Linked DNA regions of Homo sapiens. The protein of the gene in region 1 interacts with the protein of each later gene in a biochemical or structural test. Each region holds a gene or a part of one and is shown in the gene's direction. Other genes may lie near its edges. The genes, in order: DHX16 and RIGI.

Region 1 (3,822 bases):
GTGACCCAGCCCCCTGGGGATATCCTGGTGTTCCTGACAGGACAGGTGCCTGACATGGTGGGGAGAGGGGATGATGTATCCCAGGGGAAGACAGGGCCGGCATGTTGGCCTTCTGTGACTCTGGGACCCCTGCTGCTCTCCCTACCCTCTATCCAGGAGGAGATTGAGGCTGCCTGTGAGATGCTCCAGGATCGCTGCCGCCGCCTGGGCTCCAAAATCCGGGAGCTCCTGGTGCTGCCCATTTATGCCAATCTGCCCTCTGACATGCAGGCCCGTATCTTCCAGCCCACACCACCTGGGGCACGAAAGGTCAGTTGGAGAAACCCACACTCTTCACCCCTATGCTTCCCACAACTAGTAGTGAAAAAGCTGTGTGCCTGCCCCATGCAAGGTGAGTCCTGCGCACTGCTGCACACAGCTGAGGAGCAGCCAGTCCCTTGTTCCTGGGACTGAAGAGAGGAGAAATATGGTGTGAACCAAGAGAGAGCCAAATATGTGATCTGGAAAGTATGCACAGTAGATTCAGTGGAGAAGGGAAGTCCTTGATGTGCTAAGAGGTGGGATTTGATATGGACCTTTAAGAGAAATGTCTGAGGTCAGGTGCGGTGGCTCACGCCTGTAATCCCAGGACTTTCGGAGGCTGAGGTGGGCGGATCACTTGAGGTCAGTAGTTCGAAACCAGGCTGCCTAACGTGGTGAAACCCTGCCTCCACTGAAAATACAAAAATCAGCAGGGCATGGTGGCGTGCGCCTATAATCCCACCTGTTTAGGAGGCTGAGTCATGAGAATCGCTTGAACCCAGGAGGAGGAGGTTGCAGTGAGCTGAGATTGTGCCACTGCACTCCAGCCTGGGTGACAATGCGAGACTCCATCTCAAAAAAGAAAAATGGCTGAGAAGTCATCAGAGGAAGGCCCAAGGTATGTTTGAGGTCAGAGTGTGAGCTAGTAGGCTTAGTGGGAGGTTCATGTGGTGAAGGAGTAGGAGACAAGGCTAAAAACAATTTGGGGCTAAGATTAGGGAGGGCCTTTGATGACAGGAAAGTTTGGACTTTATTTATTTTTCTTTTTTGAGACAGAGTCTCGCTCTGTTGCCCAGGCTGGAGTGCAGTGGCAAGATCTCGGCTCACTGCAGCCTCCACCTCCCAGGCTCAAGTGATTCTTGTGCCTCAGCTTCCCAAGTAGCTGGGATTACAGGTGTGTACCACCACCCCAAGCTAATTTTTTTTTTTTTTTTTTTGAGATGGAGTCTCACTCTGTCGCCCAGGCTGGAGTGCAGTGGCACCAACTCTGCTCACTGCAACCTCTGCCTCACAGGTTCAAGCGATTCTCCTGTCTCAGCCCCCCAGTAGCTGGGATTACAGGTGCCCTCCACCACGCCTGGCCAATTTTTTGTATTTTTAGTAGAGATGAGGTTTCGCTATTTTGGCCAGGTTGGTCTCAAACTCCTGACCTCAGGTGATCTGCCCACCTTGGCCTCCCAAAGTGCTGGGATTATAGGCGTGAGCCACCATGCCTGGCCAACACCCAGCTAATTTTTAGTAGAGATGGGGTTTCGCCATGTTGGCCAGGCTGGTCTTGAACTCCTGGACTCAAGTGATCCGCCTGCCTTGGCCTCTCAAAGTGCTGGGTTACAGGCATGAGCCACTGTGCTTGGCGAAGTTTGGACTTTAGACAGCTGAGTAGCAGTCAAAGGATTTTGAGCAGAGATATAACTTTCATTCAACAAATATTTAATGAGTTCCTTCTGTGTGTCAGGTACACAGGGGTTGATGATACAGTGATGAACAAAACAAAGTCCTTAGCCTAACAAACTTGCACTTGTGGTCTATCGGGGAAGCAGTGGATGCATAAATACATATTGTCAATTTGTGGCCAGTGCTATGAAGAGATACAAGGCAGCATAGTAGGATGGAACTTGACTCTGTGGGGTGGGAGTGAGGACTGGCATGAAGGTATTTTCCTTGGGGTGTAGGGAGGGCCTCTTCAGTAAGGGGAAAGTGGAATAGAGACCCAAACCAGGTGAGGGAGGGAGCCAGGCTGATATCTGGGAGAAGAGTATGCCAGACAGAGGGAATAGCTGATGCAAATGATCCAGTGAGGAGTGCACTTACTTGGGCAGAGCAAAGCAGTGTGTGGGAGGAGTGAGGGAGGTGGTGGAGTGCTAGCAGATGAGGTCAGAAAGGCAGCTGGGGTAGGTGATCCAGGCTTTTAAGGGGCTTGGATTGAATTCTAGAGTAGGATAGGAAGCCACTGAAGGATGGGGAGTGATGTGACAGGTTTGTATTTTAAAAGGACCATCCTGGATGCCATGTGACAGAGGCTAGGAGCAGAAGCAGGGATACACGTTAGGAGGCTCTTACAGGAAGTGTTGTGTGAAGACGAAAGCGGTGATGGGGAGGATCGGGCAGGAACTTGAACACCCCCATTTCCCATCTCTGAAAAAAAAAAAAAACCCTAAATCCTCTTCTCCATTTCCTTTCCTCCTATGGCCCTGCTGACTCCCAGCCCCCACTTCCCTGTCCCCTGTCTTCTGGCCTTGTCCCCTGCTCCTGACCTTGGATACTACTAATTCCCTCAGCTCCTGCCCCTTACTGCAACTGCTTCACTACTCCTAACTTTCCAAGATTACTTTTTCTGGGTAACTAGGTAGGTGGGGTCACTGGGTGACCCCATATCCTATCACTCAGGTGGTTGTGGCAACGAACATTGCTGAGACATCACTCACCATTGAGGGCATCATTTATGTGCTGGATCCAGGGTTCTGTAAGCAGAAGAGCTACAACCCCCGCACAGGCATGGAATCGCTCACTGTCACACCCTGCAGCAAGGTCAGCCTGGGGATGCATGGGAGTGGGGGAGGTGGAGTTGGCCCACAGAGAAGGTCCAACTCAGAAGCAGGGTGGGGGCTTCCTAGGGAACCGGGATGAGCAGTTTGCATCCTTCCAGATTTCTTGCATAAATACTGCCTTTTTCTTTTCCCTGACCAAATTGTCAGCCAGCCTGTTCCCCTTTCTTTCCAGGCCTCAGCCAATCAGCGAGCTGGCAGGGCAGGTCGGGTGGCTGCAGGGAAGTGCTTCCGCCTGTATACCGCCTGGGCCTATCAGCACGAGCTTGAGGAAACCACAGTGCCTGAGATCCAGAGGACCAGCTTGGGCAATGTCGTGTTGCTGCTCAAGAGCTTAGGTGATTGGGCTACCTGAGAGAGGAGGGAGGGGCTGGAGTCACTGTCCTTTGAAGGGACTCTGTTCCATCCATCACACCTCTTTCTAGGGATCCATGACCTAATGCACTTTGATTTCCTGGACCCTCCACCATATGAGACACTGCTGCTGGCTTTGGAGCAGCTGTATGCTCTGGGAGCCCTCAACCACCTTGGGGAGCTCACCACGGTGAGTCGGGGGACAGCATGGGTGGAGGCAGGATGATAGGGGTCAGGATGGCTCCAGGGACCCCTGTAGTAGTAGCGGGAAACCTGAGGGAGGACTGGGCTCAACTCTCTCTCTCTTCTCCTTAGTCTGGTCGAAAGATGGCAGAGCTGCCGGTGGACCCCATGCTGTCCAAAATGATCTTAGCCTCTGAGAAGTAAGCCCTCGCCTCCACCTGGGCCCCCAGCACACAAACAGGCCAGGCCTCCTCTGTCTCCAGGGTCCCCTTTGTCTGTCTTTTTCTGTTCATCATACTATCCCTTAACACATAATAAAGTATTAGATAACTCTGATTGCCCCCTTTTGAGGCCCACAAGGGTAAGACACTTGATCCTATCCTTGATTCCACTGCGCCCGGCCCCTTGAGGAACTTACTTGTTCCTAAGGTTTCCAACT
Region 2 (3,822 bases), on another chromosome or scaffold:
ATCAGTGATAAATGGCTTAGGATAAAAAAAACACTAGAAAGTCTTATAATTTTTTTTATGACTTAATCCAAGTAAATGTTATTTAATCTTAATAATAGTAAACACAACTAAATTAGTTTGAGAGAAAGCCCAATCAATATAATTTCCTTAAAGACAAAGCCAATTTTTTTCTGAATATTAAGACTTTGTACCCATATAGCAGTTTTGCCTCATTAAAGGAAAAGATCTGAAACCGCTATTGTTTATTGAATTGAATTACCTTGGAAATAAACACCACTTAAACATTTCTCTCACCTACTTTTCCAAATAACCAATAATAATGTACTATTTCTGTTCAGAACTTAGAAGAATAAACCTTTTATTATTTTTTGCCAGGAATCTTAAAGTTCTTATAGCTCTCTAGTTCATTAGAGGTAAGCAAAACCAAACAAATTTTAAAGGCTGGTGTCCACCAACAATTTTTGGAAGCTTGAAAAAGGTAGCTTAGGAACTTTGGATAAGTAGAGCAAATGATGAGATACTGGAAATGCATAGGAAACAAAATGATTATTCATGGAACCAAATAAAAGCCTTCCTTACATTAGAAACTAAAAGCCATCAATGGTTTTATTAATATGTATATATAAGTAAAACCTAAAGAAGAAGAAACAGCAAATAAATGCAAATTAAAAGAAAAAACAAACAGGAAACCAACCTGAAAATTTTCTACTCAGTTTAACTTGGAGGCTATAGTGTTACCCAGAGCCAAAAAAACACATGATGAATATTTTGTTCCTGATGCACAATTTAATGTCTTTAAGTTCACCAATACCACTATATATTTTGTGCAATTAAGAAATTCACTTTAGGCTGGGCGTGGTGGCTCAGGCCTGTAATCTCAGCACTTTGGGAGGCCAAGATGGGTGAATCACTTGAGGCCAGGAGTTTGAGACCAGCCTGGCCAACATGGTAAAACCCCATCTCTACTAAAAATACAAAAATTGGCCAGGCATGATGGCACACAACTATAATCCCAGCTACTCTGGAGGAGGCCGACCAGTAAGTATTATACTGTAATGATAGTATATCTATGCAGAAGAGCAAATACAGTGTGAAGCAATGCAAGCATGTAGGTGAAATTTGGTTGTTGCTATATCTGGCTTTTATCTGGCTTCATGGTTAACTATATTAAGAAAGGATTGCCAAACTGCCAATGTGTTTCTTTACAATATTTCTTATTTTACTTTCATCAAGACTAAGAGCTTTAACTATGAGCAGTGTTAATTAGCCAGATTTCTCCAATATTCTATCTGGTTTTAAGAGAATATTATTTAAGCCTTTTATACTTTGTATTTTCTCTGTCTGTACATAAAGGTAGACACACAAAGAAATAGGAAAGAAACTACATGACTTACACACACCATCTATGATATGCTTAGACTTTCTGATTTGTCCTGGATTTTCGTTCTTTTTCTTCTTCTTTTTTTTTTTTTAAACAGTCATTTTACTTTAGGACAAAAAAAATACCATTATAAGATGCTTTGTCATACAAAATTATTTTCTTTATAACCTTCCTTACCAAAAATACATCTTTATACTCATAACTTTCTCCACATCTCTCTCGTCTACTTGTTCTTTTCTACCTTGTTTCATAAGTAACCTTTCAAGTCCATAATTATTAATAAACTTTAGATAACTTCTGAGTTAGATAAAATTTTTTTCTGAATAAAAACACATTGTCTTTTGCACATTTTATATATAGAATTACATATGAACTAGAATTCTTATCCTTAGTAACAACCTTAAATTTCAGTAAAAACCTAGGAAGCAAGAAATCTTGAGCTGCCTAGCAGATATTAGTATTTTATAGATGAGAACCATTCCACAATTTTTAGAAACATGTTCCCCACATCATAACCTTTTCTTAATTGGAAATGACTCAAACATCCAATGATTATATTTCCGATTATGCCAAAAGTTCATTTACAGCATTTGACCATTTACATTTTATTTATTTTTAGCAGTTTATCTAGATTATTTCTGCATCATTTCCTTCTTAACCATTTTATAACCTGTGAATGTCAGGTGTTCACCTAAATAACCTTAAAATTAATACGTGGGCATTTTGATCAATAACTCAGAAGATTCAGCTGTTTTCATTAAACTAACAGCATTAAATTAGTCTTATAAAGAATTCACACAAATATTCACTGGGTTTATAGCTTTATAACCTGCTGCCAAACTCTGATACCTCAAATTATCTAGCTGAGACAAATATAAAGCCGAGACAAAAATGTATGCTGACAATTCTGAAGACATTTCTATTTTTATTTTACCAATAATTTTAAAGACAGCTTGTTTATTAAAGATTTACTGAAGTCATGTGAACTTGAAAAACACTTTGGACTTAATTTATGAGCACTCTTATTTATAAGCCAATTTGGTAGGTATAGTGTATAACATAGTTAATGTACATCTAGATAAACACATCTAAACATGTATACACACACAAAGATCCAACAGCTTTTACCTTGGAACTCTAGCCATGAGATAGCAATACAAACTCACGAATCTACAACCAAGTCCACATGGCTAAAATTTGTTTGCTCCAATCGGTAATCCAATGAAGGCTGTGAACCAGAATTTTGGGTAAAGCAGTTTCCATGGCAGTTTGATTTTTAGAAGCTAGATTCCAAAGAAACCTGGGGCCAAACAGCACTACAGAAGAACGTCATGTGGAAACTACTCACCAGGCCCAACCCTGCTTAAAACAGCGGCATAAAAGCCAGAATACATGGGACTCCACCTGGCTTTCCCATTCAACAGCCAACTCCAGATTCCAAAGAATATTGGGGCAAACGTAGTACAAAAGAATATTTGTTTGTTGAATTCTAATTTCCCATTACTATATTGACACATACAATCAACAAAACACAATCCGACTGCTGAAGCAATAGACAAGCCCGAACAGTGTCCAAACTGAAACAGTCGAGGTGCTTTTCTCTCTCAATCGGGCTTTATTAACCTGCAAACAGAAATTTCTTAGGAATTTTCCAAATTGAGAGAAGCCGATCCCACTGTCTGGTACCCAAAAAAGACACTAACTTGGCCAGACACAAACACAGAAATTACAAACACGCTCTCTAGAGTATCATACTGAGAGTCAGGGTGCTTCCCTTTCTTAGTCAGTTGGGCTGGTTTAACCTGCAAATGGAAGCTCCTTTTAAAATTTTCAAATTGAGCAGATCTTGCTGTCTGGGCCAAGAAAGGACACTCACTTATCCAGATGCCAGTGTCACATTTCAAAGGCTGTTCTTCCTAGCAATCAGGAACTCAGCTGGGGCTGGCAGCAGCAGGGCCAGAGAGACCAAAACTCACTTCCAGCCAAAATTGGGTGGGCAGTTGCTTAGGAGGGCTTCTGAGACTCCTAGACCACAGCAACCCAGCCACAAAAATCTGTTACTGAAGCACCAGGGGTTTGGCCTAGGTCCTCCTGGTAGCCACACAGAAAGCCAAACAGGGAGACAACAAGTATTGCCAGGGAAGAAGCCTTTAATTGGGAGCTGTAGCCAAGAAGATGAGAGATTAGTCTCAACTCCATCTCCCTGACCCACTAAAATTAGGGGTTTATATAGCAGGGAAGAAATGTAACTGTGTGGGAAAACAGGAACTCAGGAAGCAATCATGATGAATGAGGGGCCTGGCCTCATTGTCTGGATGTGATAATCTGGTGAATTTCAGTTTGATACTTTTTGAGAGGCCTGGTGGTCTTTTGCCTGAGAAAGGATCTCAGATAAAACAAGTGTAAGCTTCAAGTTTAAAGACCAGAAGGGTCAATTTCTG

What was found.
Region 2: the proteins of DHX16 (region 1) and RIGI form a complex in vitro, tested with the Homo sapiens proteins (one study listed by BioGRID).

Annotation. Positions count from the first base shown.
Region 1 is NC_000006.12:30,655,959-30,659,780, reverse strand, and holds part of DHX16 (pre-mRNA-splicing factor ATP-dependent RNA helicase DHX16), read left to right. Parts: coding exon 1-45; intron 46-156; coding exon 157-309; intron 310-2,688; coding exon 2,689-2,829; intron 2,830-3,021; coding exon 3,022-3,184; intron 3,185-3,271; coding exon 3,272-3,390; intron 3,391-3,515; coding exon 3,516-3,583; intron 3,584-3,822. UniProt on the Homo sapiens protein: Required for pre-mRNA splicing as a component of the spliceosome. Contributes to pre-mRNA splicing after spliceosome formation and prior to the first transesterification reaction.
Region 2 is NC_000009.12:32,516,035-32,519,856, reverse strand, and holds part of RIGI (antiviral innate immune response receptor RIG-I), read left to right. Parts: intron 1-3,822.